Regions from separate parts of the Homo sapiens genome. Here region 2 is linked to region 1. Evidence: fine-mapped expression QTL. Tissue or cell type: pancreas. Region 1 holds a variant in brackets; the other region holds the start of a gene. All regions are shown on one strand. Distances are from middle to middle.

What was found. PIP is the estimated chance that this variant, and not a neighbour inherited with it, causes the effect.
Region 2: it holds the start of NUP107, and the variant in region 1 is fine-mapped to the expression of NUP107 in pancreas (GTEx, PIP above 0.99).

Annotation. Positions count from the first base shown.
Region 1 is chr12:68,754,490-68,759,194 of GRCh38, forward strand. It overlaps SLC35E3 (solute carrier family 35 member E3), which reads left to right. Exons shown (of 5, transcript NM_018656.5): 4 at 4,668-4,705. Among named protein-coding and RNA genes, the nearest start is that of SLC35E3, 11 kb to the left of the region's middle. The variant A/G (reference allele first, on the strand shown) is at 2,665.
Region 2 is chr12:68,684,172-68,688,523 of GRCh38, forward strand. It overlaps NUP107 (nucleoporin 107), which reads left to right and starts at 2,807. Exons shown (of 28, transcript NM_020401.4): 1 at 2,807-2,902. The coding sequence starts at 2,895. It overlaps LOC100507250 (a long non-coding RNA gene), which reads right to left and starts at 2,688. Exons shown (of 3, transcript NR_038930.1): 1 at 2,566-2,688; 2 at 1,692-1,846. It also overlaps the pseudogene RPL7P42.

The DNA of each region.
Region 1 (4,705 bases):
TGGCCAGGCTGGTCTTGACCTCCTGACCTCAAGTGATCCACCCACCTCGGCCTCCCAAAGTGCTGGGATTACAGGCGTGAGCCGCCGCGCCCAGCCGGTGTCTGTGTAATAGCCCCTCTGCATATTCACTTTTTTCCCAGTTCTTTACCACTATGAACAATATTGTGATAAACATCCTTGTACATCATGTGTTCTCATGTACTGATAACTTTTTTCCTATGGAAATGAGTCCCAGGAGTGGAATTGGCAAATCAAGGGCATATGTATTTTGGGGACTTTTATTTTTTAGAGACAGTGTCTGGCTATGTTGCCCAGGCTGGCCTCAAGCTCCTGAGCTCAAGTGATCCCCCCAACCTCAGCCTCCCAAGCAGCTAGGACTAATGCGTTGGGGACATTTTAAGTTAGAATGTATAATCCTCCTATGTCTTAGTCAGTTCAGGCTGCTATAACAAAACTACAATGGACTGGGTGGCTTAAACAACAAATACTCATTTCTCACAGTTCTGAAGTCTGGAAGTCTGAGAACAGGCTGCCAGTATGGTTGGGTTCTTGGTGAAGGCTCTTTTCCTGCTTTATAGATGGCAGTCTTCTTGCCATATCCTCATCTGACAACAAGGAAGAGGAGAAGCAAGCTCTCTTGTATCTCTTCTTATCATAGGGACTAATCCCATTCATGAAGGCTCTGCCCTTATGCCATAGTCACCTCCCAAAGGCCCCACCTCCCAATACCATCACCTTGCGGGTGAGGATTTCAACATAGGAATTTTGGGGGGACACAAACATTCAGTCCATAATACCTTACTTATCAGGAATTCCTGCTTCCCACAAGAGTTCCCACAACTCTTGGAACACAGTCAGTGGGAATATCTTTTTTGTTGGTCGCATCAATTTATCAAGCACCTATATAGCCCTTAGTCTGTTCCCAGCACTATTCAAAGCACTATGTAAATATTAACTTATTTAATCTTCATAACTTTATTAGGTTGATGCTATACTAATACTATTTGTATTAGTCCATTTTATGATGTTATAAAAGCATACCTGAGACTAATTTATAAAGAAAAGAGGTTTATTTTGGCTTATGGTTCTGCAGACAGTACAAGAAGCATTAGTGCTGGCATCTACTTCTAGTGAGGGCCTCAGGAAGCTTACAGTCATGGTGGAAGGTGAAGGGGGAGCAGGCATGTCACATGGCGAGAGAGGGAGCAAGAGAGAGAGGGGAGGAAATGCCAGTCTCTTTTAAACAGCTAGCTCTCATGAGAACTAATAGAGCAAGAACTCACTCATTACCCTGGGGAGGGCACCAAGCCATTCATGAGGGATCCAGCCCCATAACCCAAACACCTTCTACTAGGCCTCACTTCCAACATTGGTGATCAAATTTCAACATGAGATTTGGAGGGAACAAACATCCAAACTATATTACCATTGTTATTATTTTTACTGATGAGGAAACCGAGAGATAAAGAGTTAGTAACTGGCTCGCAATCCCACAGCTAATAAGCAGAAACACAATTTGGATACATGCCTTCTGGGTCCAAAGTCTGTGTTCTCCAGTGCTCCGCTCTGCTTCCCCTAAGTAGACCAGTAGTTATTTCAAATTTATATATTTTACCATATACACTTTTTTTCTAAAGTAGAGGTCATTGGACCATCTATCAGATAATATTTCCACTTTGCAAAAGTCCTAGCCATCCTGGTTATCTGGTTTCAAACCATTGCAGCCTAGAGACCTTATACTACAAGGAGAGAGGATTTTTTTCGTAGCCTTCTAACAGGTTTTAAAATGAGGACAGCAGCAGAAAAGCCATTAAAAAAAAAAAAAAAAAAAGGCAAAGAAACCAAGACCACAGCAGGCTGAGGCCATTTAGTGTGAAGGAAAGTCATCTTCATTCCTTAATGTCCCTAGGAGGCATCCTTGACTCAAAGTAGAGGATTGTGTCAACTCAACTTTTTTTTTTTTTTTCCATATGAAGCCAGCATTACCCTAATACCAAAACCAGGAAAGGACACAACCAAAAAAGAAAACTAAAGACCAATATCCTTGATGAACATAGATGCTAAAATCCCTAACAAAATACTAGCTAACTGAATCTAATGACGTATCAAAAAGATAATCCACCATGATCAAGTGGGTTTCATACCAGGGATGTGGGGATGGTTTAACATACAAAAGTCAATAAATGTGATACACTATGTAAACAGAATTAAAAACAAAAATCACATGATCGGCCAGGCGCAGTGGCTCACCCCTGTAATCCCAGCAATTTGGGAGGTCAGGGCGGGCGGATCACGAAGTCAGGAGATTGAGACTAGCCGAGACCATCCTGGCTAACACGGTGAAACCCCGTCTCTACTAAAAATACAAAAACAAAATTAGCTGGGCGTGGTGGCTGGTGCCTGTAGTCTCAGCTACTTGGGACGCTGAGGCGGGAGAATGGCGTGAACCCGCGAGGCGGAGCTTGCAGTGAGCCGAGATCGTGCCACTGCACTCCAGCCTGGGCGACAGAGTGAGACTCCAAATAAATAAATAAATAAATAATGGCATGATCATCTCAATAGATGCAGAAAGAGCATTTGACAAAATTCAGCATCGCTTTATGATTAAAACCCTTGGCAAAATCGGCATACAAAGGACATACCTTAATTTAATAAAAGCCGTCT[A/G]TGACAGACCCTCAGCCAACATAATACTGAATGGGGAAAAGTTGAAAGCATTCCCTCTGAGAACTGGAACAAGACAAGGATGCCCACTCTTACCACTCCTCTTCAACGTGGAACTAGCTTCTTTATATTCTTCAAAGTCCGTAACAAAGACCCTAACAAAGTAGAGTAATTGTGTTTTTAATGATGTGCCAAGTATCAAGTTTAAGTTTTCTTTGGAACTTAAACTTCTTAATAGTTTATATCATGAATATCATTTTATCTAAATTCAGAAACAAAATGATTCTATAACTTTTTGGATAAAATTATGGGATAGATTTGAACAGAACTTTGTATGTGTATATAGTGGTCCAACCCATTTGTCCCCCTGTGCCCAGCCAAGTTATCTATAAAAAGGAATAATATTTTTACAACTACTTTGTGGATGTATGTGAAAATTAAATAAGTGAATACATGTAAAACAGAACAATTATTGGTGCATAATAAGTGTTATGTAAGTGTAAGCAGTGATCATCATGATTTTTATTATGTCCTCAAGTAGTTTCTAAGCTCTTTGAGGGCAGGAACTTTGTACATACTGCGTTCCTCAGAAGGCCTGGCCTAACTTTGTAGATATCCAATGAATGCTTATTGAGTTAAATAAGAATAAAAATGAGGCCAGGTGCAGTGGCTCAGGCCTGTAATCCCAGCACTTTGGGAGGCCAAGGGGTGCAGATCACCTGAGGTCAGGAGTTCGAGACCAGCCTGGCCAACATGGTGAAACCCCATCTCTACCAAAAAATTCAAAAAAAATTAGGTGGGTGTGGTGGCATGGGCCTGTAATCCCAGCTACTGGGGAGGCTGAGGCAGAAGAATCACTTGAACCTGGGAGGCAGAAGTTGCAGTGAGTCAAGATTGCACCACTGCACTCTAGACTAGGCGACAGAATGAGACTCCATCTCAAAAAAAAAAAAAGAATAAAAATGAGCAATTTAATAGAAAAAGATCTCGGCCGGGTGCAGTGGCTCACGCCTGTAATCCCAGCACTTTGGGAGGCCGAGGTGGGTGGATCATGAGGTCAGGAGTTCAAGACCAGCCTGGCCAAGATGGTGAAACCCATCTCTACTAAAAATACAAAAAATTAGCCGGGCGCAGTGGCAGGCGCCTGTAGTCCCAGCTACTCAGGAGAATGAGGAAGGAGAATCATTTGAATCTGGAGGGTGGAGGTTGCAGTGAGCCCAGATCGTGCCACTGCACTCCAGCCTGGGTGACAGAGTGAAACTCCGTCTCAAAAAAAAAAGAAAAAGATCTCGAAGGAGGTATGCCGAGATGTTAATGTGTGGGTGGTTGGGATTATAAGAATTCCTTATATTCTTTTTGCTTTTCTTTATTGTCTGATGTACAATAATAATAATGCATATGTATACTTTTTCTTTAGATTAATAAGAAAAATGAACCTGGAAATTCACAATCACAGAAAGGATGTTATTGCAGTATTTTTCGTTGATTCTTGTGGAAAAAATTACGTTTTTTCTAAACACGGTTCATTCTGCTTTTTTACTTGCAATTCTTACTGTCTCCCAACCCCAAATTCTCTTTCTTTTTTTTTTTTTTTTTTTTTTTTTTTTTTGAGATGGAGTCTTACTCTGTCGCCCAGGCTGGAGTGCAGTGGCGTGATCTCGGCTCACTGCAAGCTCCACCTTCCAGGTTCATGCCATTCTCCTGCCTCAGCCTCCCAAGTAGCTGGGACTACAGGCGCCCGCCACTGCGCCCAGCAAATTTTTTATATTTTTAGTAGAGATGGGGTTTCACCATGGTCTCGATCTCCTGACCTCGTGATCCGCCCGCCTTGGCCTCCCAAAGTGCTGGGATTACAGGCGTGAGCCACCGCGCCCGGCCCTCTCTTTCTAATCTTATTTATTAATGGTTGATATTTGAATTTTTTAAAATGCCGAATGAAATGTATCTTTGCTTGATGATTATGATTGCAGTGCTTTGCATTAATGGTTCTTTTGGTTTATTTGTAGCTTATGGTGCTGCTATCTGGAGTAATAGCTTTCATGGT
Region 2 (4,352 bases), 70 kb before region 1:
CATCCAGGCTGGAGTGCAGTGGCATGATCATAGCTCATTGCAGCCTCGGCCTGCCAGGATCAAGTGATCCTCCTGCCTCAGCCTCCCAAGTAGCTGGGACCACAGGCACGTGTCACCACACGTGGCTAATTTTTAAAACTTATGTTAGAGACAGGGACTCCCTATGACATCTTGTTTAATCCTCACAACACCCCCTGACAAAGGTATTGTTTTCTCCACTCTACAGATGAGGAATCTGCAGGTGCAGGGGGGTTGAACCTAGATGGAGCCCAAAGCAATGTTTTTATCAAAATGCCATGTTGTCTGAGAGGGGATAATAAGGTATGAAGAGGCCTTCCGGGGAACTATGCTTCCCAGAATTACAGCAGAACATAAATGCCTAAGGCAAAACTTCCACTGATTTCCTCTTTCCCAGCTGAAACCATGGAGGGTATTGAAGACAAGAAAAAGAAGATTCCTGCTGTGCCAGAAACCCTTTAAAAATGTGAGGGAAGGCTGGGCACTGTGGTTCATGCCTGTAATCCCAGCACTTTGGGAGGCCGAGGCGGGTGGATCATGAGGTCAGGAGTTCGAGACCAGCCTGGCCAGCATGGTGAAACCCCGCCTCTACTAAAAATACAAAAATTAGCTGGGCATGGTGGTGCACGCCTGTAATCCCAGCTACTTGGGAGGCTGATGTACAAGAATCGCTTGAACCGGGGAGGCAGAGGTTTCAGTGAGCCAAGATTGCATCACTGCACTCCAGCCTGGGCAAAAGGGCAAGACTCTGTCTCAAAAAATAAAAATAAAACACATGAAGGAATTTCACAGAGCTAAAGGTCAAGTGCCTGAGAAAGAAGTTTGCCCATAAAATGCTTTGAAAAGAAAGGAGAAGGCCAGGCGCAGTGGCTCACGCCTGTAATCCCAGCACTTTGGGAGGCTGAGGCAGGTGAATCACCTGAGGTCAGGAGTTCAAGACCAGCCTGGACAACATGGTGAAACCCCATCTCTACCAAAAACGCAAAAATTAGCCGGGTGTGGTGGCAGACACCTGTAATCCCAGCTACTCAGGAGGCTGAGGCAGGAGAATCGCTTGAACCCAGGAGGCAGAGGTTGCAGTGAGCCGAGATGGCACCACTGCACTCCAGCCTGGGCAATGGAATGAGACTCCATCTCGAAAAAAAAGAAAAAGAAAAGCAAGGAGAAAGCTACATCTATGAAAAAGCTAGGCACTGTCAGATGTGGTGGCTAACCCCTGTAATCCCAGCACTTTGGGAGACCCAGGTAAGAGGATGGCTTGAGCCCAAGAGTTTGAGACCAGCCTGGGCAACAACATAAGACCCCATTTCTCCAAAATATTTTTAAAAAACGGGGGAGGAGAGGAGGTCAGGCATGGTGGTGCGTGCCTGTGGTCCCAGCAACCTCAGGTACTAGGGAGGCTGAGGTAGGAGGATTGCTGGAGCCCAGGAGGTCAAGGCTGCAGTGAGCCGTGACTGTGCCACTGCACGTAAGCCGGGACAATAGGACAAGATCCTGTCTCAAAAAAAAAAAAAACAAAGAAAGAAGGAAGGAAGGAAACATAATTTAAAAAATCAAGTCCAAAAAAAAGCAAGCAAGAAGTAAAAAAAAAAAGCTCAGCACTGTCACAAGAAATATATGGCAAGAAAAGCTGGCAATTTCTATATACCTGTGAAACCCAAATTGTCACTTGCCTTAAGGATCAAATGTATCAATGGTGTGAGCCCAAAACTCTGTTGCAACTTCTTCACTTTCCCCAGATCTTCAATGGCAGCTTTGTTAAACTCAACAAGGCTTCAGTTAACACGCTGAGGATTGTGGAACCATATATCACATGGAGTACCTGAACCTGAAATCAGTAAATGAACTGATCTACAAATTGGTTATGGCAAAATCAATAAACAAATTACCTTAACAGATAACGCTTTGATTGCTAGATTTCCTGATAAATATGGCATCATCTGACTGGAGAATCTGATTCATGAGATCTATGCTGTTGAAAAACTCAAGTTCCTGTGATCCTTCAAATTATCTTCTCCACGAGGGAGAATGAAGGACTACCTATTTTGTATTAATAAAAGGTATAAATGCCAGCAACAGAAAAGACTATATCAACAGGCTTATTAAACGGATAAACTGAAGCATCTAACATTATTTTTGTAATCTGGTCAGTTAATAGCCAGTCACTACTTTCAAACTGGAAAAAACAAAAACCAAAACAAAAATGTGACTGACTCCTTCAAGACCAAAATACACCACTTTTTGCCTAGACGGCACTTTGAAATAGAGGGCAATACCATCATATTTCACGCTTGCCTTTCTACTTTTTAATACAGGTGAACTTTTTCTCCTTAATAGGAAAGAACACCAAGTAAAGAACAAATAGCAGTTATGGAAAATAGTTGCAAAAACTGCAGGGGGCTACAGAACAAAGGACTGAGTGTAGGCAGAGAGATAGAGATCCCCGAGGTGTGGGGCAGAGCCCACGCATCTGAATTCCAAGAACAGGCGCTTTCTGACAGAGAATACCAGGAAATGACTTCACATTTTTCCAGACTATCAACATACTTCATTCTTCCCAGTAGGAGAACCCAGGGCCTGTTCCACGCCCACAGACTTTGGTCAGGCAAAGCGGCCGCAGGGCGTCTGGGCTAAACGCAACCAGGAACACATTGGCAAACTTTTGCGCCTGCGCCCACCGGGCGTGCACCTGTAGGCTGAAGTCGCGCATGCGCTAGATGGGAACGTTGTTTCTTCTCCCCTACCCCTTTTCTGTGGGTCTGTTTTAGGGACAGACTGCTTCCGGGTCGAAGGGCTTGCTTCCGGAGAGCGGGAAGGCTAAAACGCGGTAGCTAAACTGCAGCCAACTTTGGTTGTGTGTGGAAAAGGCTTTAGCCATGGACAGGTCAGTACTGATGGTGGCAGCTGAGCCCGAAGTCTTGCCCGTCTCGCCTGTTGGCGAAACGAAATAGGTGAAACTAGACTCCCAGAAGAAGCCAAGGAGGTCCCGGGTGCTTCCCCTAAGGCTCCTTCCCCATGCCGGGAAATTTGGCCACAAATGGGGAAAAAGCCGCTTGGCGTGCGTCGGGGTGGGGTACAGATCATAATAGTCCCTTACTTTCCCACTACGTTCTGCGATCTATTCGGCGCTTTGGGGCAGCAACACTGTTCGCTCCTGGGGTGGGCGGGGTAGGTAGCGCGGCGTTCGAAATGCTAAGTGACCAGCCTGAGATCACAAAGCCAGTCAGTGAAGATACTGGGATCTCAGCCCAGACTTTCTGATTACAAGTGCCAGCATCAGATTCTGAGTTCCCTCTATGATCTGGGTACTGTGCTAGCCGCCTACAACAAAGATCAGTTATTCAAGATCCTTCCCCTCGGGGAATTAGTTGTGTAATGGAGACAACCAAGCAGTGTAAAGTGGTAAGTGTTTGGGGGCGATTAAGTCTCCTTGTCACTGTAACTATCAGGAAGACCCCTCAAAGAAGGTAACTTTCTAGCTGGTCTTTGAATAATAAGAGTACATTATTCGTACTCCAAACATTGAGTACCTACTATGTGACTGCCATTGTTCTAAAGGCGTTGAATATATATTATTAGCTTATTTAATCTTCAGAACAAGAAAAATCCTATGAGATGGGTACTGTTATCCTTTTTTCATATATAACACTGAGACTAAAAGAGGTTAAGGAACTTGCTGAAAGTTCGGAAGCTAATAAATACAAGAACCAAATTGCCAACCTGCATCTGTGTGTCTCCAGCCTACCTGAGGCTCTTTGAGGAGTAAGTAGTTGTTGACCAGGTGCTCAAGGGGGCAAATGTAGGTCTTTGTAAAAGAAGCATATTCAGAGGTGCTAGGATATGAAAAAAAAGTACGTGTAGCTCAGTGGTCACATGCAGTATACGTTTAAAGTGATGTTTGTGGCTGAATAGAAGACTGAACCCCTAAACTGGGGTCACATTGTAAATATCATTTTAGGAAATTTTTACTTCTATAGACCAGAGAGCTATCTGAAGGTTTTTTTTTTTGTTTTTAATTTTAATTGTTAAACGTTTAAAATTGTTTCTATGTGGTTGTTTCCCATACTTTCCTGCTGAAGGAATATCTGAAGGTTTTAAGTGGAGGAAAAGCATATTAGATTCTTGTCTTAAACACAGGCCTTTTAGTCCGCACAATTTAGTTTCTAGACCTTTGAGTGAAACTGACAGGGAGTGTTGTGATGGGACAGGAGACCTCCTGGGTTGAAATAACTTGAAGGGTCATTTTGCTCCAATTTACCACAATTCTTTTACTTACCCTTCTATCTCACAAGCTCTGTTTGTTGTTGTTGTTGCAAGCTCTGTTTGTTGTTGTT